Regions from separate parts of the Homo sapiens genome. Here regions 2 and 3 are each linked to region 1. Evidence: fine-mapped expression QTL. A gene starts in region 1. Each other region holds a variant in brackets. All regions are shown on one strand. Distances are from middle to middle.

Region 1 (7,403 bases):
CTGGAATGCAGTGGGTGGCGCGATCTTGGCTCACTGCAACCTCTGCCTCCCCAGTTCAAGCCATAGTCTCCCACCTCAGCCTCCAGAGTAGCTGGGATTACAGGCGCCCACCACCACACCCGGCCACTTTTTATATTTTTAGTAGACACAGGGTTTCACCACCTTGGCCAGGCTGGTCTGGAAATCCTGACCTCAAGTGACCCGCCCACCTCAGCCTCCCAAAGTGCTAGGATTACAGGCCTGAGCCACTGTGCCCGGCCCTCCCTGATATCTTAAAGTTGGAGCGGCCCAGGGCTCTATCTTTGGTCCTCTTCTCTTCTACATTCACTTTATCCAGCTCAGCTCTTAAATGTACCCAATTAGTTCTTACAAATGCATTATCAAGACATCAATCATTTCTGTGGCTTTAAATACCACCTATATGCCAACCACACCCTAATCTATATCCCCATTCCAGAACTTTCTCCCAAATTCCAGACTCGTACATCTGTGCAGAAACGAGTTAACATAACAGGCCTGAGACTGCTATCCTTAGAATGCCTGCTTGCAAAGTTGGCCCTTGGCTAGTGTCTCAGAACTTGAACTTCACGAGGGTTCCCACAATTCCCACCTGGATAAGAGTGGCTCACTGTGCTGGAAACTGTACAATGTGATTCTAAACACCTGCTTTTTTTCTGGGCGGCGGAAATTTTGGCACATTCTAGGCAGACAGTGCCTATGTGACTTTTTATTGGAAAAATGAGCTCTACAAGCTTTCCTGATAGATCTCTCACGTCTTGTCATAATTTGATGCTGCAAGAATTAAGCATACCCCATGTGACTCCACTAGGAGAGGACTCTTAGAAGACTGCACCGGGTTTCCTCCAGACTGTGTCCCATGCATCTTTTCCCTTTGCTTATTTTGCTTTGTATCCTTTTGCTATAATAAATCACAGCTGTGAGTATGACTACGTGCTGAGTCTTTTGAGTCCTCTTAGTGAATCAATGAACCTGGGGACCTGCAACACAATAGCTGCCTATTTGACACCTCCACGTGGGCACATAATAAAGTCATTCATACGATGTCACTCCTTTCCTCAAATCCCTACCAAAGCACTCAGAGAACAGCAAAGTCTCTACGATGGTCTAAAGGCTCTATAGGATCTGGTGCTCCCTCAACCCCCATTTCCTCTCCAACCTCATCTGCCAATTTGACTCTTGCAAATTCAGCTTCAGCAACACTGGCATCCTCCCCTTAATTAAGCACTTACCATGTGCCAAGCACTAATCTGGGCACTAGGAATTCAGCAGAGGAAAAAAATACGAAGATTCCTATTCTTGTAGAGTTTATAGTCTAGTAGGGGAAACAGGTAGACAAAAAAAAAAACACCCTGTAAATTATATGATAGCTGGTGGTTAATGCACTGGGGGAAGAAAGTGGAGCAGGGTAAGGGGGATTGAGAGGGCAAGATGAGGTCAGGCAGGTGGCTCACGCCTATAATCCCAGCACTTTGGGAGGCCAAGGCAGGAGACTCGCTTGTGTCCAAGAGTTTGAGATCAGCCTGGGCAACACAGTGAGATCTAAAATAAAAATAGTATGGGCGCGGTGGCTCATGCCTGTAATTCCAGTACTTGGGGAGGCTGAGGCGGGCGGATCACTTGAGGCCAGGAGTTCAAGACCAGCCTGGTCAACATGGTGAAACCTCGTCTCTACTAAAAATACAAAAATTAGCCAAGCGTGGTGGTGCACACCTGTAGTCACAGCTATTTGGGAGGCTGAGGCTGAAGAATCGCTTGAACCTGGGAGGGGGAGGCTGCAGTGAGCCGAGTTCACACCAGTGCATTCTAGCCTCGGCGACAGAGCGAGTGTCAAAAAAAAAAACAACAAAACAGGCCGGGCGCGGTGGCTCACGCCTGTAATCCCAGCACTGTCGGAGGCTTAGGCGTGCGGATCAGGAAGTCAGGAAATCGAGACCATCCTGGCTAACACGGTGAAACCCCGTCTCTACTAAAAATACAAAAAATTAGCCGGGCGTGGTGGCAGGCGCCTGTAGTCCCAGCTACTCGGGAGGCTGAGGCGGGAGAATGGCGTGAACCCGGGAGGCGGAGCTTGCAGTGAGCAGAGATCGCGCCACTGCACTCCAGCCTGGGCGACAGAGCGAGACTGCGTCTCAAAAAAAAAAAAAATAGCCGGGTGTGGCGGTGTGCGCCTGTAGTCCCAGCTGCTGGGGAGGCTGAGGCAGGAGAATGGCGTGAACCTGGGAGGCGGAGCTTGCAGTGAGCCGAGATCCCGCCATTGCACTCCAGCCTGGGCGACAGAGCAAGACTCCGTCTCAAAAAAACAAAACAAAACAAAACAAAACAACACCCTGTGGAATAAAAATTGATCAGGAGGACGGGTGCATTCGAATGAATCAGGAAAAGAACACGCAATGATGGACCCTGGGAAGTGACCTGATGGAAGTTCATTTTAAAAGATCTCTTTGGCGTTGGTGTGGGATGAGTGGAGAGATGATCACGGCAGAATCCCATAGGAGGTTTTGGGTGACATCTTCAGGAGAGGTATACAATCTGAACTAACCGAAGACTGTAAGAAAAGCAGTGTCTGTAAAAAAAGCAGCGCTGACTTTGACCTGCTTGACGCCAGGAAACGCTCCACATTCCTGAGCCCGTTCACCGCTCCGTAAGATGGAGAAACTGGTCTAAACGCTTTGAAGTCTAATGCAGCTAAAGATCCTTCCCTTTACTTGGAGACCTCGGAGGCTGTGGGCTGAGACAGGGTCGGATTCCTCTCGCTCCCTCCCCACCCCCGCGGGCAGTGCACCTTCCTGGGTCCCCAAGGTCAAAGGAAATGGACAACTGCGTCCCCGGGTTCGCAGTCTGCATTCGGAGCCAGCAGGAGCGACAGGAGGCAGGAACGGAAGGCTTCGCCGCGCTCAATTACCACAGTCCCTGCGCAGCCCTGAGCTCGCGGGGCGTCCCGAGGCTGGCAGGACACGGGACACTCACGGGGAGACCCGGCGGGAGCGTGGGCGGGGCGGAGAGGCGAAGTGACAGGGGGCGCGGGCAGGGGGCCCGGCGCGGCGCGCCAGCAGAGGCGCACTCACCTGTACGTCAGGCCCTCTCGTCCCTCCCCGCGGCCGCGCGGACTGCAGGCCTCCAGGCTACCCCTATCTGCGCCCCGCCCCTTCCGCCGGCGCCGGCGCAGTGAGAGCGGGTCGGGCGGGGCGCGAGGCCAGGGCGGCAGCGAAGCAGCGACCCCTGCTGGAGGCCGCGTCTTGGAGGACTGCGCGGGAAGTAGGCTCGGGGCACACCATTCTCCCGGGTTCACGCCATTCTCCTGCCTCAGCCTCCTGAGTAGCTGGGACTACAGGCGCCCACCACCACGCCCGGCTAATTTTTTTGTGTTTTTAGCAGAGACAGGGTTTCACCGTTTTAGCCAGGATGGTCTCGATCTCCCGCCCTCGTGATCCGCTCTCCTCGGCCTCCCAAAGTGCTGGGATTACAGGCGTGAGCCACCGCGCCCGGCCATCTTAATTCTTTTTTCTTTTTTTTTTTTTTTTGAAACCGAGTCTCACTCTTGCCCAGGCTGGAGTGCAGCGGCGTAATCTCAGCTCACTGCGACCTCCGCCTCCCGGGTTCAAGCGATTGTCGTTCCTCAGTCTCCTAAGTAGCTGGGACTACAGGCGTGAGCCACCATGACCGGCTAATCATCTTAATTATTAATGAAGTGATCCTTTCTCTGGGACCACTAACCCCTTTGAACATTTTTTTTTTTGACAGGGTCTCACTCTGTTGCCCGGAGTGCAATGGTGCGATCTCGGCTCACTGCAACCTCTGCTACCCAGGCTCAAGCTGTTCTCCCCACCTCAGCCTCCCCAGTACCTGGGACTCCAGGTGTGTGCCACCACGGCCTGCTAATTTTTGTTTTGTTTTGTTTTGTTTGTAGAGATGGGGTTTCGCCATATTGCCCAGGCTGGGACTCAAGAGAAGCGATCTTCCAGCCTCAGCCTCTTAAAGTGCTGGGATTACAGGTGTAAGCCACCGAGCCCGCCCTCTTTGAACATCTCCAAGAGATATAGGCGTTGTTTCCAGAAAAATGTGCAAATACGTCAGACTCGCAGTTTAAGGAAACATCTTTTCAAGACCAACGCAATTTACACGTGAGCCAATTCCCCTTTCCCTCCCAACCAACTATCCATCCATTCGTCCATCCATCCATCCATCCATCCATCCATCCCTCTCTCATTAGGTCTGTCTGTGGAGAACTCTGACTCATACACCAAACAAGATGTCACCCTGCAACATTCTAACAAAACTTCTAGTCAAAGTCACAGATGACCTCTGCAATGTAAATCCAAAGGTCTGGTCTCATTCCTCAACTTACTTGAGTTATAGGATACCCCATTGGTTTCACCTACCTCACTTGCCACTTAATCTTCTTCCCTGTTTTTTCTTTTGTTTTGTTTTGTTTTTTTGTTTTTGAGAATGAGGCCTGCTCTGGCCCCCAGGCTGGTGTGCAATGGCATGATCTCTGCTCACTGCAACCTTCACTCTCGGGTTCAAGCGATTCTCCTGCCTCAGCCTCCTTAGTAGTTGGGACTACAGGTACGCACCACCATGCCCGGCTAATTTTTGTAGTTTTAATAGAGACAGGGTTTCACCAATATTGGCCAGGCTTGTCTCAAACTCCTGACCTCAAGTGATCCACCTGCCTTGGCATCTCAAAGTGCTGGGATTACAGGCATGAGCCACCACTCCCAGCCAGCTGTTTTTTCATTACATCCTTAGAATGCCAAAGAGTAAGTGCCCCATACTTAGACCTCTAATCTTTTTCCTTTTTATCTATCCTAGTTCCCCAGTCGATCTCCAACAATTTCGTGGCTTTAAATATTATCTATATATGGACGATCCTCAAATTTGTATTGCGAGCCGAGATCATTCTCTTGCATTCAAGACTACAACTGCCTACTTAACATCTTCACTTGGAAATCTAACGGAAATCTCAAACTTGATAGGACCAAAACCCAGATCCGGGTCTCAATGCGTTCCTCCCACAGCATTCCTTATTTCAGTTAATGAGTCTTCCACCCTTCCTGTTACTTAGGTCAGATATCTTAGAGATACACTCAATTTCTCCCTTTCTGTCTCACCTGGGATTAGAGGCGTGCACCACCACACCTAGCTAATTTTTGTATTTTTAGTAGAGATGGGGTTTTACCATGTTGGTCAGGCTGGTCTCAAACTCCTGACCTCAGGTCATCCACCGCCTCAGCCTCCCAAAGTTCTGGGATTATAGGTGTGAGCCACCACGCCTGGCGGCTTACCTTTCTTCAGGCTATCCTCAGGACAATAACCAGAGTGATCCTATTAAATCACAAATCAAATCCTGTCATTACTTAAAATCCTCCTGGGCTGGGCGCGGTGGCTTATACCTGTAACTCCAACACCTTGGGAGGCCGAGGCGGGCAGATCATGAGGTCATGAGTTTGAGACCCGCCTGACCAACATAGTGAAACCCTTTCTCTACTAAAAATACAAAAATTAGCCGGGCGTGGTGGTGTGCGCCTGTAATCCCAGCTACTCAGGAGGCTGAGGCAGGAGAATAACTTGAACCTGGGAGGCGGAGGTTGCATTGAGCCGAGATCGCGCCACTGCACTCCAGCCTGGGTGACAGAGCGAGACTCCATCTCAAACAAACAAACAAACAAACAAACAAAAAACCAAAAACCCAAAACCATCCCAGGCTACCCACCTTATGTTACAGTTAAAGCCAAAATCCTTTCAATGGCTGGTGAGGCCTTCTGCATCTGAACTCACCTACATTGCTGACCTCATCTACACTACTGACCTCATCTCCCACCACCTTCCTCCTCCCTCTCTGGGTTCAGCCATACTTGCCTCCTTGCCATTCCCGGATGAGGTCCCTGGAAACCTCAGATGATGTCTTGCTTTAGGGCTTTTGCACACTTTCTTCCCTCCATCTGGAATCCTCTTCCCTCAGCTGACCACGTGATTTGTTTCCATACTTCCTTCAGGTTTTCACACAAATGTCATTTTCTAAGTGAGGCATTCTCTTAATTATACTATTTTAAATTAACCCCCTACGTGATGGCATGTGTCTCTAGTCCCAGTTACTCAGGACTCTGAGGCAGGAGGATTGCTTGAACCCAGGAGTTTGAGACCAGAAGGATCAAGAGAATATTTTTGATCCAGCCTAAAAAAATTATTAAATGTCCTAAAATTTTTCAATTTTTCTTCACAACACTAATCACTATCTAATATGTTTCCCACTTATTTAACTCTTCTGTCTACTCCCACTAGAATGTGAGCCCTATCAGGGTAAAAATCATGTTTAACGTACTGCTGTATCCAATGCCTAGAACTGTGACTAGCACATAGTAGGTTCTGAATAAATAAGAGTTGTTTGAGAATGGAATAAATCTACATGTACAGAGATATGCACTGCAGCTTTATTTGTATGATACTAAAAAATGAAAACAACCTGATTTTCCATCGGTGTAATTATTTATTTAATTATTTTTTTGAGACAGGGCCTCACTTTGTCACCTAGGCTGGAATACAGTGGTGCCATCTTGGCTTACTGTAGCCTCGAACTCCCAGGCTTAAGCAATCCTCCCACCTCAGCCCTCTAATTGTTGTATTCTTCGTAGAGATGGGGTTTCACCATGTTAGCCAGGCTGATCTCGAACTTCAAGCCTCAGGTGATCTGCCCGCCTTGACCTCCCAAAGTGCTGGGATTACAGGCGTGAGCCACCAGACCTGGCCCCATCAATGTTTTTATTTATTTTTATTTCATTTTATTTAACTTTTGAGTTGGAGTCTCACCCTGTTGCCCAGGCTGGAGTGCAGTGGCCCAATCTCAGCTCACTGCAACCTCTGCCTGCTGGGTTCAAGCAATTCTTCTGCCTCAGCCTCCTGAGTAGCTGGGATTACAGGTGCCCGTCACCATGCCCAGCTAATTTTTGTATTTTTAGTAGAGGCAGGGTTTCACCACGTTGGCCAGGCTAGTCTCCAGTTCCTGACCTCAGGAACAGGCACTCCAGCCTGGGCAACAAGAGGGAAAATCCGTCTAAAAAAAAAAAAAAAAGGCCGAATGCAGTAGCTCACACCTGTAATCCCAGCACTTTGGGAGGCCGAGACGGGCGTATCACGAGGTCAGGAGATTGAGACCATCCTGGCTAACACAGTGAAACCCCATCTCTACTAAAAATACAAAAAATTAGCTGGGCGTGGTGGCGGGCGCCTGTAGTCCCAGCTACTCAGGAGGCTGAGGCAGGAGAATGGCATGAACCCGGGAGGCAGAGCTTGCAGTGAGCCGAGACTGCACCACTGCACTCCAGCCTGGGCGACAGAGCAAGACTCTGTCTCAAAAAAAAAAAAATTTCCAGGGGACAAACTTT
Region 2 (7,403 bases), 28 kb before region 1:
TTCTGTGAAGAAGCATCTAATAGTGACTCCTCTGAGTGAGACTCCAGAAGAGAGTCCTTACCGGACCTCTAAACAGAAATTCTCCATTTTAGACACCTGTGGTCCGGCCTTGACTGTGGTCTTTAGGATTTCACTTGTCTACCTTAGGGAAGGTCTCATCAACTTTAAGAATAAAGTTGCATTGGCCAGGCGTGGTGGCTCATGACTATAATCCTAGCACTTTGGGAGGACGAGGCGGGTGGATCGCCTGAGGTCAGGAATTCCAGACCAGCCTGGCCAACATGGCGAAACACCATCTCTATTAAAAATATAAAAAATTAGCCAGGCGTGGTGGTGGACCCCTATAATCGCAGCTATTCAGGAGTCTGAGGCAGGAGAATTGCTTGAACCCAGGAGCCAGAGGGTGCAGTGAGCCAAGATCGTACCAAAAGGCAGAAGCAGCAGGCTGTGAGGCTTGTGTGTATAAGAAAGATGTTATGCTGGGCGCGGTGGCTCAGCATCCATACAGAATCCCAGCACTTTGGGAGGCTGAGGCAGGTGGATCATGAGGTCAGGAGTTCGAGACCAGCCTGACCAACATGGTGAAACCCCGTCTCTACTAAAAATACAAAAATTAGCTGGGCGTAGTTGTGCGCACCTGTAATCCCAGCTACTCAGGAGGCTGAGGCAGGAGAATCGCTTGAACCCGGGAGGCAGAGTTGCAGTGAGCTGAGATCATGCCACTGCACTCCAGCCTGGGTGACAGAGCGAGACTTCATGTCAAGAAAAAAAAAAGGAGAAAAAAAAGTTATGAGGAGTTCATGTTAAAAAATAATCTCTTTACGGCTGGGCGCGGTGGCTCAGGCCTGTAATCCCAGCACTTTGGGAGGCTGAGGCGGGTGGATCACGAGGTCAGGAGTTCGAGATCAGCCTGACCAACATGGTTAAACCCCATCTCTACTAAAAATACAAAAAAATAGCTGGGCATGGTGGCGGGCACCTGTAATCCCAGCTACTCAGGAGGCTGAGGCAGGAGAATCATTTGAACCTGGAAGGCGGAGGTTGCAGTGAGCCGAGATCGTGCCATTGCATTCCAGCCTGGGTGACAGGGCAAGACTCTGTCTTGAAAAAAAAAATACAAAAATTAGCTGGGCGTGGTGGCAGTCACTTATAATCCCAGCTACTTGGGAGGCTAAGGCTGGAGAATCCCTTGAGCCCAGAAGGCAGAGGTTGTACTGAGCCGAGATCGCACCATTGCACTCCAGCCTGGGTGACAAGAGTGAAACTCTGTCTCAAAATAATAGTAATATTAATCATCTCTTTACACCTGTATTATACTGGCAAAAATTAGAAAGCTGAGTAATGCCAGGGGCTGAGGTGATGGGTCTAAGGCACTCTCCTGTGGGAAAGCAGCCAGTGCAGCCATTCTGGTGGATAGAAGTGCTATGTTATTTGTCGAGAGGAGAACTGGGTACAGTTTGGGACAGTGTCACTGGGAGCATGGGTAAGCAAAGTGCATGGTGGATGCACTTTGGTCTTTATCCTGCAGCAGTGAGAAGCAGTGGATTCAATGTACCCATAATGCCATGAATGGATCTTAAAAAACATCCTGAACATGCAAGAGGAAATATAATAATGCCATTTGTAAAATTTAAAATATATGGACAGAACAGCAAAATATGTTTTACAGGAGCATACACCATCACCCCGAACTGAAATGTTTTCTTCCAGTTTCTTTCTTTTCTTTTCTTTTCTTTTTTTTTGAGACAGAGTTTCACTCTTGTTGCCCAGGCTGGAGTACAATGGCACGATCTCGGCTCACTGCAACCTCCGCCTCCCGGGTTCAAGCGATTCTCCTGCTTCAGCCTCCCGAGTAGCTGGGATTACAGGCGTGCGCCACCATGCCCGGCGAATTTTTTTGTATTTTTAGTAGAGATGGGGGTTTCTCTATGTTGGTCAGGCTGGTCTTGAACTCCCGACCTTAGGTGATCTGCCTGCCTCTGCCTCCCAAAGTGCTGGGATTACAGGTGTGAGCCATTGCACCCGGCACTTCCAGTTTCTTGAAAGCCAGTAATGTTTCTATCTCCTCCCCAACGACTATTGCCCAAATAAACCATGACTTTAAAATTATCCCCCAGGCCGGGCGCGGTGGCTCACACCTGTAATCCCAGCACTTTGGGAGGCCGAGGCGGGCAGATCATGAGGTCAGGAGATTGAGACCATCCTGGCCAACATGCTGAAACCCCGTCTCTACTAAAAATACAAAAATTTAGTCAGGACTTGGAACATCTTTATGAAACAGAGAAACATGAAAGCAATTCATAAAGATTTATGGAGCTCTTGGAACTCATTACTAGACCCAAATGATAACTGCCTTTTAATGTGGTCCTGGCAAGGCTTCCTCAGTGAAAAATGTGACCAACATATGAAAAGATTAAAGAAAAAAATGTCTAATGCAGTGGTTCTCAACTGGAGATGATTTTTCCTGCTGGGGAAGTTTGGCAATATCTGGAGATATTTTTGGTGGTCATGACTGAAGAGGTGCTGTGGGCCTCGTGTAGGTAGAGGCCAGGCATGCTGCTGAACACCCTCCAATATACAGGACAGCAAATACCTATCTGACTTAAAATGTCAATAGTGCTGAGGTTGAGGAACCCTGTTCTAATTAGGGTGACAAGGAAGAATTGTGTTTTTGTTTTGTTTTTTGAGATGGAGATTCGCTCTTGTTGCTCAGGCTGGAGTGCAGTGGCATGATCTCTGCTCACTGCAAACTCTCCCTCCCGGGTTCAAGTGATTCTCCTGCCTCAGCCTCCTGAGTAGTTGAGATTACAGGTGCCCGCCACCACACCCAGCTATTTTTTTGTATTTTTAGTAGAGACGGGGTTTCATCATATTGGCCAGGCTGGTCTCAAACTCCTGACCTCAGGATCACCCTGATCCACCCGCCTTGGCCTGCCAAAGTACAGGAATTACAGGAGTGAGCAACTGTGCCCAGCCAGAAATTTTCTTTTTTTTTTTTTGACGGAGTCTTGCTCTGTCACCAGGCTGGAGAGCAGTGGTATAATCTGGGGTCACTGCAACCTCCGCCTCCCGGTTTCAAGTGATTCTCCTGCCTCAGCCTCCTGAGTAGCTGGGACTATAGGCACGTGCCACTATGCCCAACTAGTTTTTGTATTTTCAGTAGAGACCGGGTTTCACCATGTTGGCCAGGATTGTCTTGACCTCTTGACCTCATGATCTGCCCGCCTCAGCCTCCCAAAGTGCTGGGATTACAGGCCTGAGCCACTGTGCTCGACCCCAAATTGTTTTTTTTAATCTAAGATATAGTTCTTGCTTTCCCAGGAAAGTCTGAAAATATTGCTAGTGTCTGCAGTTTTTAAAGGATGAAACAATTTAAAGTTATGACTTTTGGAAGAGGACTATCCAGCCAGCTCTTCTTCTTCTTTTTTTTTTTTTTTTTTTTTTTGAGACGGAGTCTCGCTCTGTCGCCCAGGCTGGAGTGCAGTGGCGCAATCTCGGCTCACTGCCAGCTCTGCCTCCTTGGTTCACACCATTCTCCTGCCTCAGCCTCCCAAGTAGCTGGGACTACAGGCGCCCGCCACCACGCCCAGCTTTTTTTTTTTTTTTTGTATTTTTAGTAGAGATGGGGTTTCACCGTGTTATCCAGGATGGTCTCGATCTCCTGACCTCGTGATCCGCCCGCCTTGGCCTCCCAAAGTGCTGGGATTACAGGCGTGAGCCACTGCACCTGACCCCAGCCAGCTCTTTTACCAGTAACGGTAATCCTTTCAAAAGAAACAGATCTCCTGTAGGAAACATGGTGCTAACTGCATTTCCCTGCCAAACAGCATTTACTATAACTTGTTAGCTTGAAAGTAGGGAAAAATAAAAAGATAATAAAAAAATTTTTTTAAAATAGCATTTACTAGTTTCCCTGGAAATTTACATAGATGGGTAGGCAATAGTTTATTATTTTTAACATTTTTTTTAAAGTAGACATTTGGGGGATAATATTATTTTATTCATTTTTAAAAAAATTTTTATTTTTTTTGAGACAGAGTCTCGCTCTGTCACCAGGCTGGAGTGCAGTGGCGTGATCTCTGCTCACTGCAACCTCTGCCTCCTGGGGTCAAGCGATTCCCCTGCCTCTGCCTCCTGAATAGCTGGGACTACAGGCGCCCGCCACCACACCTGGCTAATTGTTTTTTTGTGTTTTAGTAGAGACGGGGTTTCACCATGTTGGCCAGGATGGTCTTGATCTCCTGACCTTGTGATCTGCCCGCCTTGGCCTCCCAAAGTGCTGGGATTACAGGCGTGAGCCTCTGCACCTAGCCCCC[T/C]TTTTTTTTTTTTGAGATGGAGTCTTGCTCTTGTCGCCCAGGCTGGAGTGCAATGGCACCGTCTCGGCTCATTGCAACCTCCACCTCCCGGGTTCAAGCGATTCTCCTGCCTCAGCCTCCCGAGTAGCTGGGATTACAGGCACCCGCCACCATGCCTGGCTAATTTTTGTATTTTTAGTAGAGATGGGTTTTCACCATGTTGGCCAGGCTGGTCTCGAACTCCTGACCTCAGGCTATCCACCCGCCTTGGCCTCCCAAAGTGCTGGGATTACAGGCATGACCCACCATGCCCTGCCATTTTTTTGATTTTTAATAGAGATGAGGTTTCACTGTGTTAGTCAGGCTGGTCTCGAATTCCTAACCTCAGGTGATCCGCCCACCTCGGCCTCCCAAAGTGCTGTGATTACAGGCATGAACAGTGCCTTTGTTTTTTTTAAAAAACAGAAGGTTTGAATGGGCCAATGAAACCCTCCCAAGCAGCTAAGTTGAGGTACTAATGACCAATAGAACTTCAAAAAGCCTTTCAAATGGCCCTGTTTTCTAGCTACTGTCAATGCATCTTACCTCATACTACTCATTTTAACTTTCTTTTTTGAGACACAAGATAGAACAATCAGTACCTTAGGCCAGGCGCGGTGGCTCACGCCTGTAATCCCAGCACTTTGGGAGGCCGAGGCGGGCGGATCACGAGGTTAGGAGATCGAGACCATCCTGGCTAACATGGTGAAACCCCGTCTCTACTGAAAATACAAAAAATTAGCCAGGCGTGGTGGTGAGTGCCTGTAGTCCCAGCTACTCAGGAGGCTGAGGCAGGAGAATGGCGTGAACCCTGGAGGCGGAGCTTGCAGTGAGCCGAGATCGAGCCACTGCACTCCATCCAGCCTGGGTGACAGAGCGAGACTCCGTCTCAAAAAAAAAAAAAAAAAAGAACAATCAGTACCTTGATCCCCATTTGACCAGTGAGGAAACCAGCTCAGAGAGGTTAAGGTGAAACTATGACCAAGATAACCCAGTGTACTAATGGCAGGACTGGGCCTGAATGCCAGGACCCCTGACATCACTAGATTGTGCTGCCCTCACCAACCAGGGTTTCGTAGATTTTCTGATCACTTTCCAAAGAGAAGTCCAGAGATGGGAAGGAAGGGGGGAGGGGGAAGGTAAAGGGGAGGTGGGAGGAAGGAGAAGATGAGAAAAGATATGGGCATCTAATTTCCTAAATTATAATTCAGACCAGGTGTGGTGGCTCATGCCTGTAATCCCAGCACTTTGGGAGGCTGCGGTGTATGGATCACCTGAGGTCGGGAGTTCAAGACCAGCCTGGCCAGCATGGTGAAACCCTGTCTCTACTAAAAATATAAAAAAATCTGGGGGGCATGGTGGCAGGGGCCTGTAATCCCAGCTACTTGGCAGGCTGAGGCAGGAGAATCTGAACCCAGGTGGTGGAGGTTGCAGTGAGTCGAGATCACACCATTGCACTCCAGCCTGGGTGACAGAGTAAGACCTCGTCTCATTAAAAAAAAAAAAAAAAAAAAAAATCATAAATAACGCGTGGAAATTAAGCTACTATTTTTACTGATGACTCAAGAAAGCCAAATTCACAAATGGTAAAATAGAAAACCCCCCGTTACACTGCATAGTATATATTATTTCTTTCTGAGAGTTTAACTTTTCAAATAAAAATCAATTTTCTTGAGTCTTTTGAAAAACAAGCTGGTAGGCCATGTGCGGTGTCTCACGCCTGCAATCCCAGCACTTTGGGAGGCTGAGGCGGGCAGATCATGAGGTTAAGAGATTGAGACCATCCCGGCCAACAGTGGCAAAACCCTGTCTCTACTAAAAATACAAAAATTAGCTGGACTTGGTAGTGTGTGCCTGTACTCCCAGCTACTTGGGAGGCTGAGGCAGGAGAATCGCTTGAACCCGGGAGGCAGAGGTTGCAGTGAGCCGAGATCACGCCACTGCACTCCAGCCTGGTGACAGAGCAAGAGTCCGTCTCAAAAAAAAAAAGAGAAAGAAAAACAAGCTGGTTAACAGTTCCAGACACATGAGCCCAAACATCCCACTGCTTTGGGCTATAGAAGTTTCTCTTCACTGACAGTTAAGGATTCTCAGGAGTTCCTGGGGGACAAATAAGAGCCCAGATACAGGGTCTTTTTTTTCTTTTTTTTGAGATGGAGTCTTGCTCTTTTTGCCCAGGCTGGAGTGCAGGGGCGCGATCTCTGCTCACTGCAAACTCCGCCTCTCAGGTTCAAGCGATTCTCCTGCCTCAGCCTCCTGAGTAGTTGGGATTATAGGTGCCTGCCACCATGCCCAGCTAATTTTTGTATCTTTAGTAGACATGGGGTTTCACCGTGTTGGCCAGGCTGGTCTCAAATTCCTGACCTCAAGTCTCAGCCTCCCACAGTGTTGGGATTACAGGCGTGAGCCACTGCGCCTGGACCAGCCAGTCTTTTCGATGTGACATAATCTAACAAGTCTCTTATTGGAGGTGATCTCTCCAAGTGCCAGGAAACAGCTCCTGGGAATTTATAGCCTGGCCTACTCATCCGCAAGTCCTTTCTTAGATGACGTACATTATGTGTGTGTCTACCCCGCCACACTACTCTGCTAAGCCTTCATCCATTTTATGACACTTTGAGAATTAGAATTGGTTTTATTCTCTTCATTGATAAAACAGGTATGTTTGCTTTCACCCGAAAATTAAACCCTTACCTATTACTCTAAACTAGGGGTCAAAAAACTTTTTCTGTAAAGGGGTAGATAGTAAATATTTTAGGCTTTGGCCAGGCATAGTGGCTCATGCCTGTAATCCCAGCACTTTAGGAAGCCGAAGTGAGACAGTCACCTGAGCTCAGGAGTTGGAAACAGCCTGGGCAAGAGCGAGAACCCTCCTCTACAAAAATATGGCGTTTTTTTAAGAGAGAGACGAAGTCTCACTATGTTGCCCCAGGCTGGTCTCAAACTCCTGGGATTAAGTGATCCACCTGCCTTGGCCTCCCAAAATGCCGAGTTAGCAGGTGTAAGCCACTGTGCCCCGCCAAAAAATTTAGTTTTTTTAAAGTAAGTATTTTAGGCTTTGTGGGCCAC
Region 3 (7,403 bases), 28 kb after region 1:
GTTACTGGGAAATTGTGGTCACTTCTATGGTACACAACAATTTCACATAACAATTATAATTATTAATAACATACACTAAGTCATATCAGAAATATAGGAGTTTTTTTATAATTTTGCAACATATACTAATAACACATTTATACAAATACAGCCCCAAGTAAGCAAAACACCATTTCATATTTGATAATGCTTCCTGTATGATTTTTATACCAAATAAGCCAAATATCACTGTTGCATTAGTGCATTATTGATGTCAAACTCAATTCTTGATAAAACGTTATAGATAAATGTAGCCAATTTTATTTAGTTTGACCACAAGGTAAGATTTTCATAGCCTTTTATAACCCTTTACAACTTTTGTTAAAGAGCAGATCATAAGCAGGTTTTTGTCTAAGAAAAACCTGTTGTGCTTTTATTCCAATGTTTAATTTACAGAAAAACTGAATACCCCTTTAATTTTAGCCAATATGTTCACACACAGAATTTTTTTTTACATTTAATTTTTTTCGCAAATCTCTCATAACTTGTTTAAACCTTTAGATTTTTCCTATCTCACTCAAAACAATTCTTTAACCCTTTAATCTAGGCAAAAAAAAAAAAAAATCCACATTCCCATGACTTCTTATCTTTTACCAAAAACACACTTCACTTTTTTTTTGTTTTGAGACAGAGTTTCGCTCTTGTTGCCCAGGCTGGAGTGCAATGGTGTGATCTCGGCTCACTGCAACGTCCACCTCCCAGGTTCAAGCAATTCTCCTGCCTCAGCCTCCTGAGTAGCTGGGATTATAAGCATGCACCACCACGCCCGGCTAATTTTGTATTTTTAGTAGAGACGGGGTTTCTCCATGTTGAGGCTGGTCTCGAATTCCTGACCTCAGGTGATCCGCCCGCCTTGGCCTCCCAAAGTGCTGGGATTACAGGTATGAGCCACCGCACCCGGCCACATTTCACTTTTTCTATACACCTTGCACGTATAACTTTTTTTTTAGTAGTCCCAAATATATGTTACACTGTTAACTCTTAGCAACTTTTACTTTTGGTGAAAACCTTGGTAAGTTCAGAATTTTTTTTTTAGACGGAGTCTTGCTCTGTTGCCAGGCTGGAGTGCAGTGGCCCGATCTCAGCTCACTGTAACCGCAGCCTCCCGGGTTCAAGTGATTCTCCTCCCACAGCCTCCCAAGTAGCACCACCATGCCTAGTTAAATTTTGTATTTTTAGTAGAGACAGGGTTTTACCATGTTGGCCAGGATGGTCTCAATCTCTTGACCTCGTGATCCACCTGTCTCGGACTCCCAAAGTTCTGGGATTACAGGCGTGAGCCACTGTGCCTGGTTGAGTTCAGATTTTTAATTATGTGCTAGGTGTGGAGCCTGTGACAGTAGACAGAAGTGCAGATAAGGTCTGACTCTTTTCGTTGTCTAACTTCATGTGTCCCAGGCCTTATCTAGCTGTAAAGCAGGAAAGTTGTACAGTTAAGAGTCCTAATGGCATTTTATGAAGCATTTAGGAGACCCAGAAACCTTTAACTTATATATTTCTTGCATAAATTCCCTTTTTTAAAGCAATCAGTCATTTTACTTTAGGACAAGTATTCACCATACAACATCCTTTCTTATACAAAATTTCTTCTTTTATTTCTTTTCTTTTCTTTCTTTTTTTTTTGAGACAGAGTCTTGCCCTATCGCCCAGGCTGGAGTGCAGTGGCCCGATCTTGGCTCACTACAACCTCCACCTCCCGGGTTGAAATGGTTCTCCTGCCTCAGCCTCCTGAGTAGCTGAGATTACAGGTGCCTGACACCACTCCCGGCTCATTTTTGTATTTTCAGTAGAGATGGGGTTTTGCCATGTTGGCCAGGCTAGTCTAAAACTCCTGACCTCAAGTAATCCACCCTCCTCGGCCTCCCAAAATGCTGGGATTATGAGTGTGAGCCACCACACCCAGCCTTAAAATCTTTTCTTTATAACCTTCTTTGCATAGCTAGGGGGCATGGCTAATTCCACATATCCTAGTCTTTATTTAGAATCTAATGCTCCAAAGTAGGTAAATTGAACAATTTTCAAAAGACAAAGAAGCACTTTATGACCTTAAAGCATTTAGTAAACTTAATATCTGACTTGCATAATTTAGACCAAATGCTTACTTTTTTTTTTTTTTTTTTTTTTTTGAGAGAGTCTTGCTCTGTCACCCAGGGTGGAGTACAGTGGCGCGATCTCGGCTCACTGAAACCTCCACCTCCTAGTGCAAGCAATTCTCCTGCCTCAGTTTCCCGAGTAGCTCGGACTACAGATGTCCACCACCACGCCCGGTTAATTTTTGTATTTTTAGTAGAGACGGGGTTTCACCATGTTGGCTAGAATGGTCTCAATTTCTTGACATCGTAATCTGCCCGCCTCACCCTCCCAAAGTGCTGGGATTACAGGTGTGAGCCACCGCGCCTGGCCGGGAGTTTCTTTATTCCATTTCAGCAGGGCCAGAGATGTCCATGAAGGCCTTGGTGTGTGATGGAACAGACAGTTGTCTAAGGGGTGCACAATGAATGCAAGTTCTTCCCATCTCCGAGTCAAGGGTTTTCTGGGAAACAGTAGGGGATAACAACTTTCATAAATTTATACAATTATATACACTGAATTTATACGATTATGTACGTATATAATTATGTACATATTTGATTGTGTACACTGAGAAGATTAAGCCAACTCTTTCAAACTCATGGAGTTTACTTCTTGAAATTGAAAGGCCTCAGAGATAAGCCTCAGAACCAAGTTCCCTCTCTTGACTTTTCCCAGCTTTTCTGTCTCTTTGTTTCTCTTTCTTTCCCAGGAACTCTCTCTGGAATTTCCTTATCTGACTAACAAAGCTTCTTTCCAAAATAAATGCAATTATTTTAAGACCCCTCTCTCTAGGAACCTCATCAGATAGCCAGGAATGATCAACTACCCGAGAATAGAAGAGACTGGGAGTCATCACCATACCCAGATAGACTTTCCATCTATTTTTATTTTATTATGTAAATTTTAAATTATTAGTAAAAAAAACCTTTTTTTTTGAGACAGAGTCTTGCTCTGTTGCCCAGGCTAGAGTGTGCGATCTTGGTTCACTGCAACTTCTGCCTCCTGGGTTCAAGCTATTCTCCTGCCTCAGCCTCCCAAGTAGCTGGGATTACAGGCACCTGCCACTGTGCCCGGCTCATTTTTGTATTTTTAGTAGAGATGGGGTTTCACCATCTTGGCCAGGCTGGTCTCGAGCTCCTGACCTTGTGATCCACCCGCCTTGGCCTCTCAAAGTGCTGGGATTACAGGCGTGAGCCACCGCTCCCGGCCAAAAAAAATTTTTTTTGAGACAGCAGCTCACTCTGTCAACCAGTGTGGAGTACAGTAGCGAGATTACAGCTCACTGCAGCCTCTACCTTCCAGGGTCAAGCAATCCTCCTAACTCAGCCTCCAC[C/T]ACTTCAGCCTCCAGAGTAGCTGGGACTACAGCTGTGTGCCTGGCTTTTGTGTTTGTGTGTATGTGTGTGTGTGTGTGTGTGTGTGTGTGTGTAGACACAGGGTTTTGTCATGTTGCCCCGGCTGGTCTCAAACTACTGGGCTGAAAGGGCCCTCCTACCTCAGCCTCCCAAAGTGCTGGGTTAAAGGTGTGAGCCACTGTACGCAGCCTTCAACTATTCTTCTTCTTTTTTTTTTTTTTTTGAGACGGAGTCTCCCTCTGTCACCCAGGTTGGAGTGCAGTGGCTTGATCTTGGCTCACTGCAACCTCCAATTCCCAGGTTCAAGTGATTATCCTGCCTCAGCCTCCCCAGTAGCTGGGATTACAGGCACTTGCATCCACACTGGCTAATGTTTGTATTTAGTAGAGACAGGGTTTCCCCATGTTGGCCAGGCTGGTCTCAAACTCCTGACCTCAGGTGATCTGTCCGCCTCGGCCTCTGAAAGTGCTGGGATTGCAGGGGTGAGCCACCGAACCAGGTGGAGCTTTTAACTATTCTTCTGACAGCAGCCCTGAGAGATTGCCTGGGAGACTTTATCTGCATAATAAGACAACATTGATGGTCTGGGCGGTGGCTCATGTGTGTGTGTAATCCCAGCACTTTGGGAGACTGAGGCAGGTGGATCACCTGAGGTCAGGAGTTTGAGACCAGCCTGACCAACATGGTGAAACCCCGTCTCTACTAAAAATACAAACATTAGCCGGGCGTTGTGGTGCGCACCTGTAGTCCTAGCTACTGGGGAGGCTGAGGCAGGAGAATTGCTTGAACCCGGGAGGTGGAGGTTGCAGTGAGCCAAGATCATGCCACTGCACTCCAGCCTGGGTGACAGAGTGAGACTCTGTCTCAAAAAAAAAAAAAAAAAAAAAGAACACTTGTTCACAGTAATAGTCCACCCCTCACCTTCCTGCCGCCTTCCCCAGTGCTCAAAGGAACTTTGTCCCCAGCCATCGTTCTTTGGCTCATTCATTTCCTTTGGAAATCATTTACTCCTACAACCCCTGTCTCCCTTTCCCCATGGAGAAGAATATAAGCAGCCGGGCCTCATCGGGTTACTGGGTAATCATAGTCTTGTGATTTTCTTCTATGCACATTAAGTAAATTTCGTATGCCTTTTTCTCCTGTGTATCTGCATTTCATCAGTTTATGCTCTGCAAACCTTCAGTGGGCAGAGAGAAAGCTTTCCCTCTGCCCCCAGTGTGGCAACAGGCCTGACTGGGGCAATGCTGCTGCCTTGCTTTTGACGCCCCCCACACACGACCGCGTCCCCCTTTCTGCTCTGTGGAACGCCTCCAGCCCCTGCTGAGGCTGGCTTGCCCATGGCAGAATGTCACCTCAGGTTGGGGGCCTTTCAAAATGCACCCCAGAGAGCTCTCCTGGGAGCCCACGTCTGGAACGTAGAGCTGAGTGTCTCTGGCTGACGTTGGAGGATGGGCAGGCTGCCCATGATGCAGCCCCTTTCCTGCTCTGGCACAGCCTTGACCTTTAAATTTCTCATTCTTTTTTCTTCTTCCACTAAACTCTAAGAGATAAGTGTTTGTCTCTCCCGTTATTCCCCTAAGAGCACCTCTCACTGGACTGGGGTGAGGAGAAAGCGCCTTTGCTCTGCAGTTCCTGCAGGGGGCGCTTGGCACCTCACTTTGGAACCTGAGAACTTGTTTTGTTGAAGGCCTTTGAGCTTCGGTTGAAATGGAGACAGAAAGGACTTCCATGTTCACATCCTGTTACACTCTCCAGCATAAATATGATCATTTTCATTTTACAGGAGGCTCAGAAAGGCAAGTCTGTGGTGGAAGTGGGTGAGCTGAAATCTGAGCTCAGGTCTGCTTGATCCTGTAGGTTACAGATGAGACAGAAATGATATGCCCTGTTGTACCCAGGGTGGCCACATCTGAGGCTCTAAGACAAATAAAAAATTACCACCATAGTGGAAAGATTAAATTCTCATGTACAACCAAATCAAAGTCTTCATATACAGTTAGAATAAAACACAAATTTCAGAAGAATGACCCACATACGTGTCGGTTTATTAGTGAGTGAAGATGTGTTTTAGAAACTGGTTATATAAATCAAAAAACTACCATCGAAGGGCTCTAAGATTAGCCAGGAGGCTTAATAGTATCCTAATTTAAGAGTTACTTGAAGATATTTTCTAAGATTGCTGTTTCTGTTGAGATATAAAATGGCTCTTAGCCTAGGATGTTAATAAATTCAAGATAAAGTGAGTAGGCGGAGTTAGAGTAAAAGGTGGCCTTCCTCTCATTGTGCTTGGATTCTGGTGGTTCCTGTGTAGAAATTCATTTGCTGAGGACTTATTATGTACTAGGCACTTTACTAGGTACTGGGGAAAGGAAGATGAACATGATGTGGTTCCTTTCTTTAAGGAGCTCAGCTGGTGAGGAAAAAGCTGCAATCCCTGTTACACGTACAATGACAGAGGAAAGCTTGGGGACTTGGGGGATGCAGGGGTGGACACTTCAGAAAGGCCCTAACCAAGGCTGAAGGGTAAGGGATGGCTTTCCAAGGAGATGACACTAATCTGGGTCCTGAGAAATGCATAGAAATCATCCAAGCAAAGAAAGACCTTGGCTTGCGTTCTTCCTTGTGTTGTGCTGGGCCCCCAAACAGGCAAACTGGGAAGGCACAGTCACCGAGAGACCGAAGAAAAGACCTGAAGACAGTGGGTAAGACATAGAGTTTAGGGCGGGCATGGTGGCTCACACCTGTAATCCCAGCACTTTGGGAGGCTGAGAGGGGCAGATCACCTGAGATCGGGAGTTTGAGACCAGCCTGATCAACATGGAGAAACCTGGTCTCTACTAAAAATACAATATGAGCTGGGCATGGTGGCGCACGCCTGTAATCCCAGCTACTCAGGGGGCTGAGGTAGGAGAATCACTTGAACCCAGGAGGCAGAGGTTGCAGTGAGCCAAGATTGTGCCATTGCACTGCAGCCTGGGCAACAATAGTGAAACTCCATCTCAAAAAAAAAAAAAAAAAAAAAGACAGAGTTTATTCAGGGGACTTATGTATGGAGTGTCCAAGAGTGGAAGGCTGGACAGGAGTTCCACTGCCTTTTGTGGAAAGCATGCAGGTTAGTAGGAACTCCCACACAGCAACCTCTACTTAGCAACCTCCACCTAGCTTAAAACAAAGGCCATTGATTTATTTTTTTTTCTTTTTTTGAGAAGGAGTCTTACTCTGTCTCACAGGCTGGAGCACAGTGGTGCCATCTTGGCTCACTGTAACCTCTGCCTCCTGGGTTCAAGCGATTCTCATGCCTCAGCCTCCCGAGTAGCATGGTGGGCACGTGCCACCATGCCCGGCTAATTTTTGTATGTTTTTTAGTAGAGATGGGGTTTCACCATGTTGGCAAGGCTGGTCTCGAACTCCTGACCTCAAGTGATCTGCCTGCCTTGGCCTCCCAAAGTGCTGGGATTACAGCCGTAAGCCACTGTGCCCAGCCTAGGCCACTGGCTTCTTGTATGACTTGTGTTCCAAGGAACGAGGCCAGGGTCCAGGTGTTCTTCATGCCCCCATCTGTGTCCCTGCTCTGAGCCTTCACACCTTCATAAGTACAGCGTAAACATCCAGGTTGGCCTCTCCCAGAGTCCATAGCTCAGAACAGTGAACAAACATTCACCAAAGAACATAGGGTCAGCCATGTATGGCAGCTCATGCCTGTAATCTTAGCACTTTGGGAGGCTGAGGCAGGAAGATCATTTGAGCCCAGCAGTTCAAGACCAGCCTGGGCAACACAGTGAGACCCCTGTCTCAAACAAACAAACAAACAAACAAACAAACAAACGGCCTGGTACAGTGGCTCACACCTGTAATCCCAGCACTTTTGGAAGCTGAGGCAGGCAGATCACCTGAGCTCTGGTCTCATTCGAGACTAGCCTGGGCAACATGGTGAAACCC

What was found. PIP is the estimated chance that this variant, and not a neighbour inherited with it, causes the effect. A credible set is the group of variants that fine-mapping cannot tell apart.
Region 2: its variant is the best candidate, but not a certain one, in a credible set for the expression of MTRES1 in CD4 T cells (BLUEPRINT, PIP 0.81).
Region 3: its variant is the best candidate, but not a certain one, in a credible set for the expression of MTRES1 in unexposed skin (GTEx, PIP 0.68).

The regions. Positions count from the first base shown.
Region 1 is chr6:107,023,955-107,031,357 of GRCh38, reverse strand. MTRES1 (mitochondrial transcription rescue factor 1) reads right to left here and starts at 3,159. Exons shown (of 4, transcript NM_016487.5): 1 at 3,087-3,159. RefSeq lists enhancers at 2,441-2,540, 2,651-2,760 and a silencer at 2,871-3,340.
Region 2 is chr6:107,051,967-107,059,369 of GRCh38, reverse strand. No RefSeq gene overlaps it. Among named protein-coding and RNA genes, the nearest start is that of MTRES1, 27 kb to the right of the region's middle. The variant T/C (reference allele first, on the strand shown) is at 4,317.
Region 3 is chr6:106,995,505-107,002,907 of GRCh38, reverse strand. No RefSeq gene overlaps it. Among named protein-coding and RNA genes, the nearest start is that of CD24, 24 kb to the right of the region's middle. The variant C/T (reference allele first, on the strand shown) is at 3,446.